Homo sapiens: one gene and its partners. The protein of the gene in region 3 interacts with the protein of the main gene of each other region in a pairwise test. Each region holds a gene or a part of one and is shown on either strand. Other genes may lie near its edges.

Region 1 (3,654 bases), on a different chromosome or scaffold from region 3:
GTCAGGAGTTCAAGACCAGCATAGCCAACATGGTGAAACCCTGTTTCTACTAAAAATACAAAAATTAGCCGGGCATGGTGGTGCATGTCTGTAATCCCAGCTACTCTGGAGGCTGAGGCAGGAGAATCACTTGAACCCAGGAGGCAGAGGTTGCAGTGAGCTGAGATTGCGCCATTTGCACTCCAGCCTGGGCGACAAGTCAAGACTCCATTTCCCCACCACCCCCCAAAAAACAAATAAAACAAAATCATTGCCATAGAAGTAAAAAAAAAAAAAATAGTGAATTTTATATAACTTTAGGTGAAGCACAATTTTCTAAGTGTGCCACTGAGGAAAAACACTGACTGAGAAAAGCTGATACAAAAATCTAAACTTCTGTGCATCAAGAAAGCAGAAGAAATCTAAAGGACAACAAACTAGGAAAATAAATGCTAACTAAAAGAAGGGTTAACATCTCAATTACAAAAGACTTTAAAACAACAATGTGGAAAAGATAACATATTGGAAAAAGGTGCAGAGGACATGAGTGAGCAATTCCCAAATGGCTAATAAGCATAACTGTTATGAAAAAATGTTCACTTCAACTAGAGTTCAAAGATTTAGTTGCAAGGATACTCCTTATACCACCATTTGGAAAAAGAGTAGAAACAACTTTAAGGTCCTATAATAAGGGATAAAGTTACAAATTCAGTAAGTTATCAAGTAATCACGTTATGTCTATAAACCAGAAACTAAAGATGACATAAATTTTTCTTTATAATGTGGATCAATGTCCATGATATTACTAGTAAGAAAAAAAAAAGTAGAGGATAAAACAAAGTAAATAAATAGCATTTGTGGAATGATTTCATTTTTATAAAAAAATACATCTTTGTATAGAACACTATATAAACAATGATATAAAATGATGTCTACCAGATTATGTCCACTGCATATCTGAGAGAGTGAAACAGAAGATGGGGAAAGCGGGGTACCCCATTTTTTGTTTAACTTGTTCTATAATTATATATAGTAAACAAATATGGTTTTCCTAATAGGAAAAATATGTTTTTTGTCTTTAAGAAATGACACACAAACCAATATTTTATTCTAATATATAAAAATCAGAAATAGTAAACAGAAAATAACCAGAAGACCAGGAAGTGAAGAACTCCTGGTCTTAACCTAGTGCCTCAACCTCTCTCCTTTTTAAAACTGAAAAGGACCAGGAGTTTGTTTACTCCTGAAAGAAATAGGCAAAAGTTATTGAACAAAAAAATAGCACCATAGGATTGCTTTTTCAGTGCTATTTATTTGCTCAACAGCTTGTTGCTTCCCAAAGCTATACAGAAAGTTCATTACAATTCTTATGCTGCTGATTCCTGTCCCATGGATGAGTTAGTGCAAACAGGCAATCATTGCCTCTCCTGGTCCAATTAACTGTTTGGCTTGGCAACTCTGTCAAACTGAAAACCTTCATGGCTGAAACAGTTACAGGAAAAGTTCTAAGGTAAATCTGGGTAATCTGAAATGACAGCACTAGATAAGACAGGATTCCTGAAGGGTGACCTTAAGTTTCCTGGGAAAGTTCATTCCTCACATCCTGTCATACTCCCATCAAAGCACGCTTAGTCAAAGGAAGAAGTGAAAGCCATCAGAAGTCTTTTCCAGAAGATTATGGAGAACCTTTCCATTAGTCACAATAGATGACTAACAGCCTTGAGGAATCTAGATGCTTTGAGAACACTTTCTAGTAATTCCAGGGCTAGAAAGTCTCTGAACTTCAGAATAAGATATAATTTTTGTATTACTGTTTACAGCTTTGTCAGAGAGGTAGGTCATAAGACAATGGCAGTCTTGTGGAAAAGATGGCTATGTACACTAGTGAAGAGAACAAAACCACCTTACTCTTATGCTACCAAAATCTCTCTGAAAATTATCTACATTAATACTAAGTAGACGGCTAGTAAGATATGTTAACGTAAAAAGAAAAGAAAAACAAGTTGTGACGTGTGGTGACAGTGGTAATAAAAACAATGTTAACATATCAAGATCCAACAAAAAGACTTTAACATTTCTCCAATGAAGAGAAACATTAAATATCTGAATCAAGTGAGCTAGCAGAACCAGGAATAGAACCCAGGACTAGCTAACTTCTTGCTGTTAACAGCCTTTCTATTAAATTATTTATCAACAGAAACTACATGAAGCAGCACTAAACTGAAAAAAAACAAGGAAGGCCAATTAGGAACAGGTATTTCATAGAAGATTCTCTGACACACATCTGCCTCCTTTTGTTCCGGTAAAGTACTGGTCATACTGTACAAATTGTTTTCGTATTCCTGAGAAATCATATGGTCCAATCCTCTGACTCTAGGCAGAACTGCATATAATCAAGTAGCAAGAACAAACATGGGGCTCTGAACCCATAAAAACAGTGAACAGAAGCCACTGTTAATTTCAACAAATTTCTGAATGAGGACAAACAAATGGAGGACTGCTGACTGATGAAGCAGGGCAATGTAAATTACAGCCCATAATACTTACCGGAAGGCTGCAGCCAAGCTAGAAACCAATCTGCCCTCTAAGACCAGATAGGCTCTTCAAGAGGTCTTCCATGTAAAGATAAACCCCCTTCCCTAAAGCAGAAACCTGATAGTCGACAGCCTTGCCTATGTATACAGAAGTCCTAATCAACTTTTCTGTTACCTCTTTCTTAAACAGAAACGAGCTGCACTTTACTGTATGCATGGTATACATCTCAATTAAAAAATTATATGCATAGATATGCAATCATCACCAAAAAATATCCGATAATTAAATTCAAAGTGCAGAAACAAAAAAACGAATCATTCATATCCTCAGAGATTCAAGAAGCTATTGCAACCACAAAAAGAGCAATGCAAGGAAAAATATACCAATAACAAGAAATAGGGAGGCTGTATGGAATGATGTGCAGAAGCCAGAAAAGCAATCAGTCAGAGTAGAAAAAACAAGAAGACAGAGGACTGCAAAAGAGAAGGGTCTAAGACAAAAGAAAGTTTACAGATTTGATATTATGCTTAAGGAACAGGAATAATATAGGGGCATGATAAAGACACACATGCAAGAAAAAAAGAGGCAATTAAAGAAACTCCAGGGCCAGGTGTGGTAACTCACACCTATAATCTCAACACTTTGGGAGGCTGAGGCAGGCGGATCACTTGAGGCTAGGAGTTCAAGACCAGCCCAGCCAACATGGCGAACCTCGTCTCTACTAAAAATACAAAAATTAGCTAGGTGTGGTAGCGTATGCCTGTAATCCCAGCTACTCAGGAGGCTGAGGCATAAGAGTCGCTTGAGCCCGGGAGGCAGAGGTTGCAGTGAGCCGAGATCATACCACTGCACTCCAGCCTGGGCAACAGAGACTCTGTCTCAAAAATCAAAACAAAACAAAAAACCTCCAGAAAAAAAAAAGATGCTATAAGAAAGAAAATGTAATCATTTGCATTACATTGGCCCTAAATATTTACACAGTCGTAATATGCATAAATTTTGCAAGCCAACAGTTGATAGAATAAGAAACAAAGGCATATTATTTCAATCTACCATGATAATGGATATAGGAACAAAAACCTTCATTATGTAACTACACTGGAAAACAGGAGACGGAAGTGGGAATGGTGGGTGTATGAA
Region 2 (3,654 bases), on a different chromosome or scaffold from region 3:
ATAAGCTGGAGATTTTTGAGATTAAGCTACTTAATGTAACAATTAATTAGATAATGAATGTCCTCTCAAAATCAGCTTAACTTTTTTCTCATCAAACATTTGACTATTTCAGATGTTGAAATCAGACGTTGTTCCTATAAATGCAGAGTACAGGGTCTGTCTGTGTCCCACCAAGGACACTTAAAGGAGTTCATGGTGGTAAGACTTGTGAAGGCCGTCTTTATCCGACTCAGAGTCTTTCCACATAGGCATTATAGAGTGACTTTTCCTCCATATATTTATTTTAATCACTCATTATTTTAGCCAGGCTTCTGACATCTATGACCCCAGTTACTGAGGACTATGTACAAATGGGACAGTTATTGCTCCTTTCTGGCTTTAAATATGGAGAGGTTTCCAATGTATGGTTAGATATGGAAAGCCCTTGATACAAAGTATGTGAGTGTCAGCATTTTGCAGCCATCTGTTTCCCTCATGAAGATAGATTAGCCCAGCAAAGGTGCAGAGTTCACTTAGGATTCCCACGGTCTAGATATTCTGTGAGTTGAAGCCTTGGTTGCCGAACACGTTTGTCTAATACCCACCTCCCACTTCTGAACAACTACTGTTGAGTTGAATAAGGATGCCCTGGGTCCAATGTGACATTCTAATTCATCTTTCATTTTTACTCCCTCGGTTTTTATGCGTGTACATTGCCTTCTTTCAAAAGCATTGCAAAAAAATAAGACATAAGTAAGGTTTATAAGACAGTCTCAAACCAATTGATTTAATATAAAATTTCATAGCACATAAACAGCAATCCTCTTATATTCCCCTCCACATTACACATAAACTATCCTGCATTAGTGGACATTTTATCTATACACCTAGCACCACCGTGCCCACCCACAGCATTGCCCCAACTCTCAGCAGAAAAGTCTCTCTTCTGACAGACATTTATGGAATTAGGAAAATATAACTTGTTTCCAGTGTCTCACATAATGAAGGGATGGGTTGCCCCTCCACACTTGTGGGTGTTTCTTGTTAGGCGGAACGAGAGACTTGGAAAAGAAAAGACACAGAGACAAAGTATAGAGAAAGAAAAATGGGCCCAGGGGACTGGCATTCAGCATACGGAGGACCCGCGCCAGCACCGGCCTCTGAGTTCCCTTAGTATTTATTGATCATTATCGGGCGTTTCCCGGAGAGGGGGATGTGGCAGGACAATAGGATAATAGTGGGGAGAAGGTCAGCATGTAAACACGTGAACAAATGTCTCTGCATCATAAAAAGGTAAAGAAAAAGGTGCTGTGCTTTTGATGTGCATATACATAAACATCTCAATGCCTTAAAGAGCAGTATTGCTGCCAGCACGTCCCACCTCCAGCCCTAAGGCAGTTTTCCCCTATCTCAGTAGATGGAATATACAATTGGGCTTTACACCTAGACGTTCCATTGCCCAGGGACGAGCAGGAGACAGATACCTTCCTCTTATCTCAACTGCAAAGACGCGTTCCTTCCTCTTTTACTAATCCCCCTCAGTGCAGACCCTTTACGGGTGTCGGACTGGTGGACGGTCAGGTCTTTCCCTTCCCAGGAGGCCATATTTCAGACTATCACATGGGGAGAAACCTTGGACAATACCTGGCTTTCCTAGGCAGAGGTCCCTGTGGCCTTCCACAGTGTTTTGTGTCCCTGGGTACTTGAGATTAGGGAGTGGTGATGACTCTTAACAAGCATGCTGCCTTCAAGCATTTGTTTAACAAAGCACATCCTGCACAGCCCTTAATCCATTTAACCCTAAATTGACACAGCACATGTTTCAGGGAGCACAGGGTGGGGGGTAGGGTTACAGATTAACAGCATCTCAAGGCAGAAAAATTTTTCTTAGTACAGAACAAAATGGAGTCTCTTATGTCTACTTCTTTCTACACAGACATGGTAACAATCTGATCTCTCTTTTCCCCACGGCATAAGGACTTAATTTCTCTATACATTGGTAATCTCTCCTTTTTTTTGCCATTTTTCTCTGTCTGGATCATCTCTAAACATCATTTCTTCTCCTCCTTATGCCACTTGGGGTATCATCAAAAACTGGCATAGCTAGATATTATAATATCTGGATAAATTCAATATTTTTAACATAGAGGTGATTATGATTTCGTCTTTTATGTTTTTAGTTTTAACAGGTTTTGAAACTAATAACAAATATGAAATTAAGAACAGCTTTGGACAGAGGGTTTACTTTGCAGCGGAAGATACTGATTGCTGTACCCGAAATTGCTGTGGGCCATCTAGACCTTTTACCTTGAGGATTATTGATAATATGGGTCAAGAAGTCATAACTCTGGAGAGACCACTAAGATGTAGCAGCTGTTGTTGTCCCTGCTGCCTTCAGGAGGTCTGTGATCAATTACCAGGGCACTTTGTAAAATAGTTCAGCAAGAATTTCTGCCCTGTCATTGAACCTTTCATCGAACCTAGGCATTATGATTATTACATTTACATATATTATTTTGCCTTTGTAGATAGAAATCCAAGCTCCTCCTGGTGTACCAATAGGTTATGTTATTCAGACTTGGCACCCATGTCTACCAAAGTTTACAATTCAAAATGAGAAAAGAGAGGATGTACTAAAAATAAGTGGTCCATGTGTTGTGTGCAGCTGTTGTGGAGATGTTGATTTTGAGGTAAGAGATGTCATAATGTTTATAAGATTTGCTTTCCTAATATAAGAAGAATGTAATTTTGCAGGACATTATAAATGCATTAAATAAGTGTTGTGTGCCAATGTCTCAATAGCAAGATGATTTTCTCATTTATTTAACTTTGGGCAGAGTGGTAGTTATCACTCTGATTAAAGGTCACTGTTGGTCATGAGAAATGGAAAAAAAAGAAGCAGACCTATGTAGTCAAATAAAAATAAGCAAATCATCCCTCACTTAAACGTGGTGGTTTCTATGTGATGACACTGTATATTATCCATTTTAAACAGAACGTTAACCTTGCCATCTAAGTCTGATTGCCAAAGCATATGGATCCTTCTTAAATCTGAAATATCATCTGCCAATGCTCAAGGCCATGTTCAGAATGTCTGACATCTTTGAATTCCTACAAGAAGCCCAATTATGCAAAGATAGTTTTGAGAAAATTAGTATAATATGTACTACCCAGTTATGCTTCTCTGTGGTCTCTCCTTTTCCCTATATTAAATTAGGTCACTAGAAGCTGCAACATATTAATATTTGTATATTTACTGTAATACATTGTAGAATTTCATTAGAGTAGCTCTTCAACAACAGATGGTCTACTTTTACAATCCAAATTTTTTCATTGCAAATGTTTAAAAATCAGAAGGTTTTATAACTTAATCTTGATTTCTTGTTTCTCTTGGAAAATCAGAAAATTGGGTTAACTGGGCCCACCTTTCCAACAAAAGGGTAAAAATCTACTAAAGATGTGTGGGGCTGCCCCTTGTAATAATGACATGGGAACTCTACCACTGTCTCCACCCCTTACTGAGGTTTTTCAATATCCAGTGTCATTCATTTATGTGATCTGCCTGCCTTCTTTAATCACATGGTATTTTATTCCTCCGTCAGACTTTAGCTATATAAAGATGAATCCTTTCCCCCATTGACTTCATAATCTAATGACAGAGATTTGCAGTTCTAA
Region 3 (3,654 bases):
ACGTGGCTAATTTTGTATTTTTAGTGGAGACGGGGTTTCTCCATGTTGGTCAGGCTGGTCTTGAACTCCTGACCTCAGGTGATCCTCCCGCCTTGACCTCCCAAAGTGCTGGGATTACAGGCATGAGCCACCGCACCTCGCCTACTTATTTATTTTTAAGAAGGAGTCTCACTCTGTTGCCCAGGCTGGAGTGCAGTGGCATGATCTCAGCTTACTGCAACCTCCGCTTCCTGGGTTCAAGCAATTCTCCTGCCTCAGCCTCCCAAGTAGCTGGCATTACAGGCATGCACCACCATACCTGGCTAATTTTTGTAATTTTAGTAGAGACAGAGGTTTCACCACGTTGGCCAGGCTGGTCTCGAACTCCTGACCTCAGGTGATCCACCTGCTTCAGCCACCCAAAGTGCTGGGATTACAGGCTGAGCCACTGTGCCCAGCCCAGTTTTGTGATCTTTAGAAAATCACTTCTCCATGCCTCATTTTTCTCATCTGTAGGATAGGGGAAGTAATGATACTTAAAATATAAGTTTCTTGTGAGGATCAAATAAGCTGATTTATGTATAGCACTTAGAACAATTTTTGGAACATTCTAAGTGCTCACTGAATGTTAGATCTCATTTTATTAATATCGTTATTGCCACTATATGCTGGACCTGTTCTAAGCATTCTGTGGATATTTAATCTTCACACCAGTCCTATGGAGTAGTTCCTGTTATTTTCAGCATTTTAGAGGTAAGAGAATGGAAACTGAAATGACCTGCACAGTCACGTGGCTCATCCCAATCTGTCTTTCCCTAGGGGCTGGGGTGAGGTTCACAGAAGATAATGTGCCTTGAGCACTTGGTGAACTGTAAAACTCTAAACCATTGAGGGCCCTAGTTTTATCTGTTCTCCTGGCCCAGAGCAGATTAGAAATAGCAACTTAGTGCCAAGGTGGAGGGTGGCAAACACAGGCCCTTCAGAAGGGCAGTTGGCAGCACTGGGGGAGGTGCCTGAAAAGCACAAAAGCAGGCATTGCAGCCCCATGGCGTCGCCTACCTTGGTGGAGAGATAGGATTGAGCTTCTGTGTGAGCTCTTTGGAATGCTCTTCCTGACCCCTAACCAGTTTGGGGCCTGGGACTTGGCACGTGGCTGGCACGTAGTGTTCTCAGCCAGTTCATCCAGACATGGTAGTGCAGGCTTGATATGAAGATGATCTTGCGGTTTTGGTGGACATTCTCCGTTCAAGAAGCTAAGACGGGTTATAGTAAATTTTAAATAGATTTCAACATAAATGGTTGATAACAAAGTCAGCTTCAGGTATGCATGTTAGATGACGTGAGACTAACCACCCATCCCGCGGGCACCCCTCGTTCCACCTTGTATGTGGCTTTCTGCGTTTTCTCCAGAGCGCACAAGGGCTGGTGAGAAGATGCTGGAAGTGTGGCAACTCAGGGTGTTTGGTTGCCCAAAAGCATGTCTGGTGTGGCTTTCCCAGCTACCTGGTGTCATGAGACTGATCACTGAGTCTCATGATTTGGTCATTGAAACAACCAGAAAGGTCTCTGACTTCTCTGTCCCCTCTTCTCTTCCTACGGGTCGGACTCGGGAACATCAATAGGAGGTGCTCCTGTACCCTGGCCACAGCCCAATCCTGCCACTGCTGACATCTGGGGAGACTTTACCAAATCTACAGGGTAAGGAGGGCCATGTTCTGCGGAGGGGCTGGGGCCAGGGCCGTTGCTCTACAAACCTGGTATTGTTCCACATGCCTGCCTTCTGGTGTTAGGATTAGGAGTAACAGTTTTAATTTGGATGTTTTCTTTTCTTTTTTTTTTTTTTTTGAGAGGGAGTTTTGCTCTTGTTGCCCAGGCTGGAGTGCAATGGCATGATCTTGGCTCGCTGCAACCTCTGCCTCCCAGGTTCAAGCTATTCTCCTGCCTCAGCCTCCTGAGTAGCTGGGATTACAGGCACCTGCCACCACGCCTGGCTAATTTTTTATATTTTTAGTAGAGATGGGGTTTTACCATGTTCGTCAGGGTTGTCTTGAACTCCTGACCTCAGGCGATCCACCTGCCTCGTCCTCCCAAAGTACTGGGATTACAGGCATGAGCCACCGCGCCTGGCCTGATTTGGATGTTTTCAAGCTAGCCAGAGGACAGAGCCCCAGCGTGCCTGCTTTGGGTGGCACACGTCTTTCCGTGGAGGTTTTGCTGCTTTCCAGTGCTATATAGCCTGGGGCAACCCTTTGCAAATCTGGGCCTTTAAACCGCCTTCCCAAGTGCTTTGGCTTGTCCCCAGTACCTCCTTCTTCTATACCCCATCCCCCACCTTCCCCAAAATAGTGGACTGAGAGTTCAGACCCAGGCTCCAGCCTCAGCCCATCCTCATAGAACGCCTGAGGCTAGGTGGCTTGTCTTCTCTGATTCCATAAGATCTCAAGACTTTACTTGGGGCCAGGGTGAAAAGATACTAAATTCCTACTGCACTATTATTTACATGGACAGATTCTAGGACAGGGGTCAGCACACATTTTCTTTTTCTTTTCATGTTTTGAGACAGGGTCTCTCTCTGTCACCCAGGCTGGAGTGCAGTGGCACTATCACGGCTTACTGCAACCACATTCTCCCATGTTGCTGGCTCTACAGGTGCACATCACCATGCCAGCTATTTTTTGTATTTTTTCATAGATACGGGGTTTTGCCATGTTGCGCAGGCTGGCCTTGAACTCCTGGGCTCAAGCGATCTGCCTGCCTCGGCCTCCCAGAGTGCTGGGATTATAGGCACGAGCCAGTGTGCCCAGCCACATTTTCTGTAAAGGACTAGATAGCAAATAGTTTAGACTATTCAGGCCGTGTGGTCTTCGTTCTAGCTACTCAGTTCTGCTCTTGTTGCACAAAAGCAGCCACAGACAATATGTAAATAAATCAGCATGGCTGTGTGCCAGTAAAATTTTATTTACAAAAATAGAGGCATGGGCTGGGCGCGGTGGCTCATGCCTGTAATCCCAGCACTTTGGGATTCCCAGGCAGGCGGATCACCTGAGGTCAGGAGTTCAAGACCAGCCTGGCCAACATGGTCAAACCCCATCTCTACTAAATACACAAAAATTAGTTGGGCGTGGTGGGGTGGTGCCTGTAATCCCAGCTACTTGGGAGGCTGAGGCACGAGAATTGCTTGAACCCGGGAGATTGCAGTCAGCTGACATCATGCCACTCTAGTCCAGCCTGGGTCACAAGAGCAAGACTCCATCTCAAAAAACAAATAAACAAACAAAAAAAACAGAGGCGTGAAATGAGGACTGTAACCCTTTTCCTGTTTGCCCTGAGAAAACTTGCCAGTGGCACTTCAGACTGCAGCGTTGACCCTGAGATAACTTTGCCACAAAATGTATTGCTTTTATATTATTTTTGCATCGCTCTAGTATATCAGCTTTGGAACAAAAGACATTCTATTTATAGCATTCTGTTTTTAATAGTGGTATTTCCATTTACAAAATATAGTAATTCTGTTTTTTTTTTTTTTTTTTTTTTGAGACAAGGTTTCACTCTGGTTGCCTAGGCTGGAGTGCAGTGGCGTGATGTCGGCTCACTGCATCCTTGACCTTCCAGGCTCAGGTGATTATCCCTTAGCCTCCTGAGTAGCTGGGACTACAGGCAATTGCCACCACACCC

Evidence for each region.
Region 1: the proteins of NECAP2 (region 3) and AP2B1 interact in binary tests that used the Homo sapiens proteins (3 or more experiments, as listed by UniProt).
Region 2: the proteins of NECAP2 (region 3) and PLSCR1 interact in a two-hybrid assay, tested with the Homo sapiens proteins (one large-scale study listed by BioGRID and IntAct).

What each region holds. Positions count from the first base shown.
Region 1 is NC_000017.11:35,628,712-35,632,365, reverse strand, and holds part of AP2B1 (AP-2 complex subunit beta), read right to left. Parts: intron 1-3,654. UniProt on the Homo sapiens protein: Component of the adaptor protein complex 2 (AP-2). Adaptor protein complexes function in protein transport via transport vesicles in different membrane traffic pathways.
Region 2 is NC_000003.12:146,520,559-146,524,212, reverse strand, and holds part of PLSCR1 (phospholipid scramblase 1), read left to right. Parts: intron 1-2,159; coding exon 2,160-2,380; intron 2,381-2,507; coding exon 2,508-2,669; intron 2,670-3,654. UniProt on the Homo sapiens protein: Catalyzes calcium-induced ATP-independent rapid bidirectional and non-specific movement of phospholipids (lipid scrambling or lipid flip-flop) between the inner and outer leaflet of the plasma membrane resulting in collapse of the phospholipid asymmetry which leads to phosphatidylserine externalization on the cell surface.
Region 3 is NC_000001.11:16,454,217-16,457,870, forward strand, and holds part of NECAP2 (adaptin ear-binding coat-associated protein 2), read left to right. Parts: intron 1-1,601; coding exon 1,602-1,677; intron 1,678-3,654. UniProt on the Homo sapiens protein: Involved in endocytosis.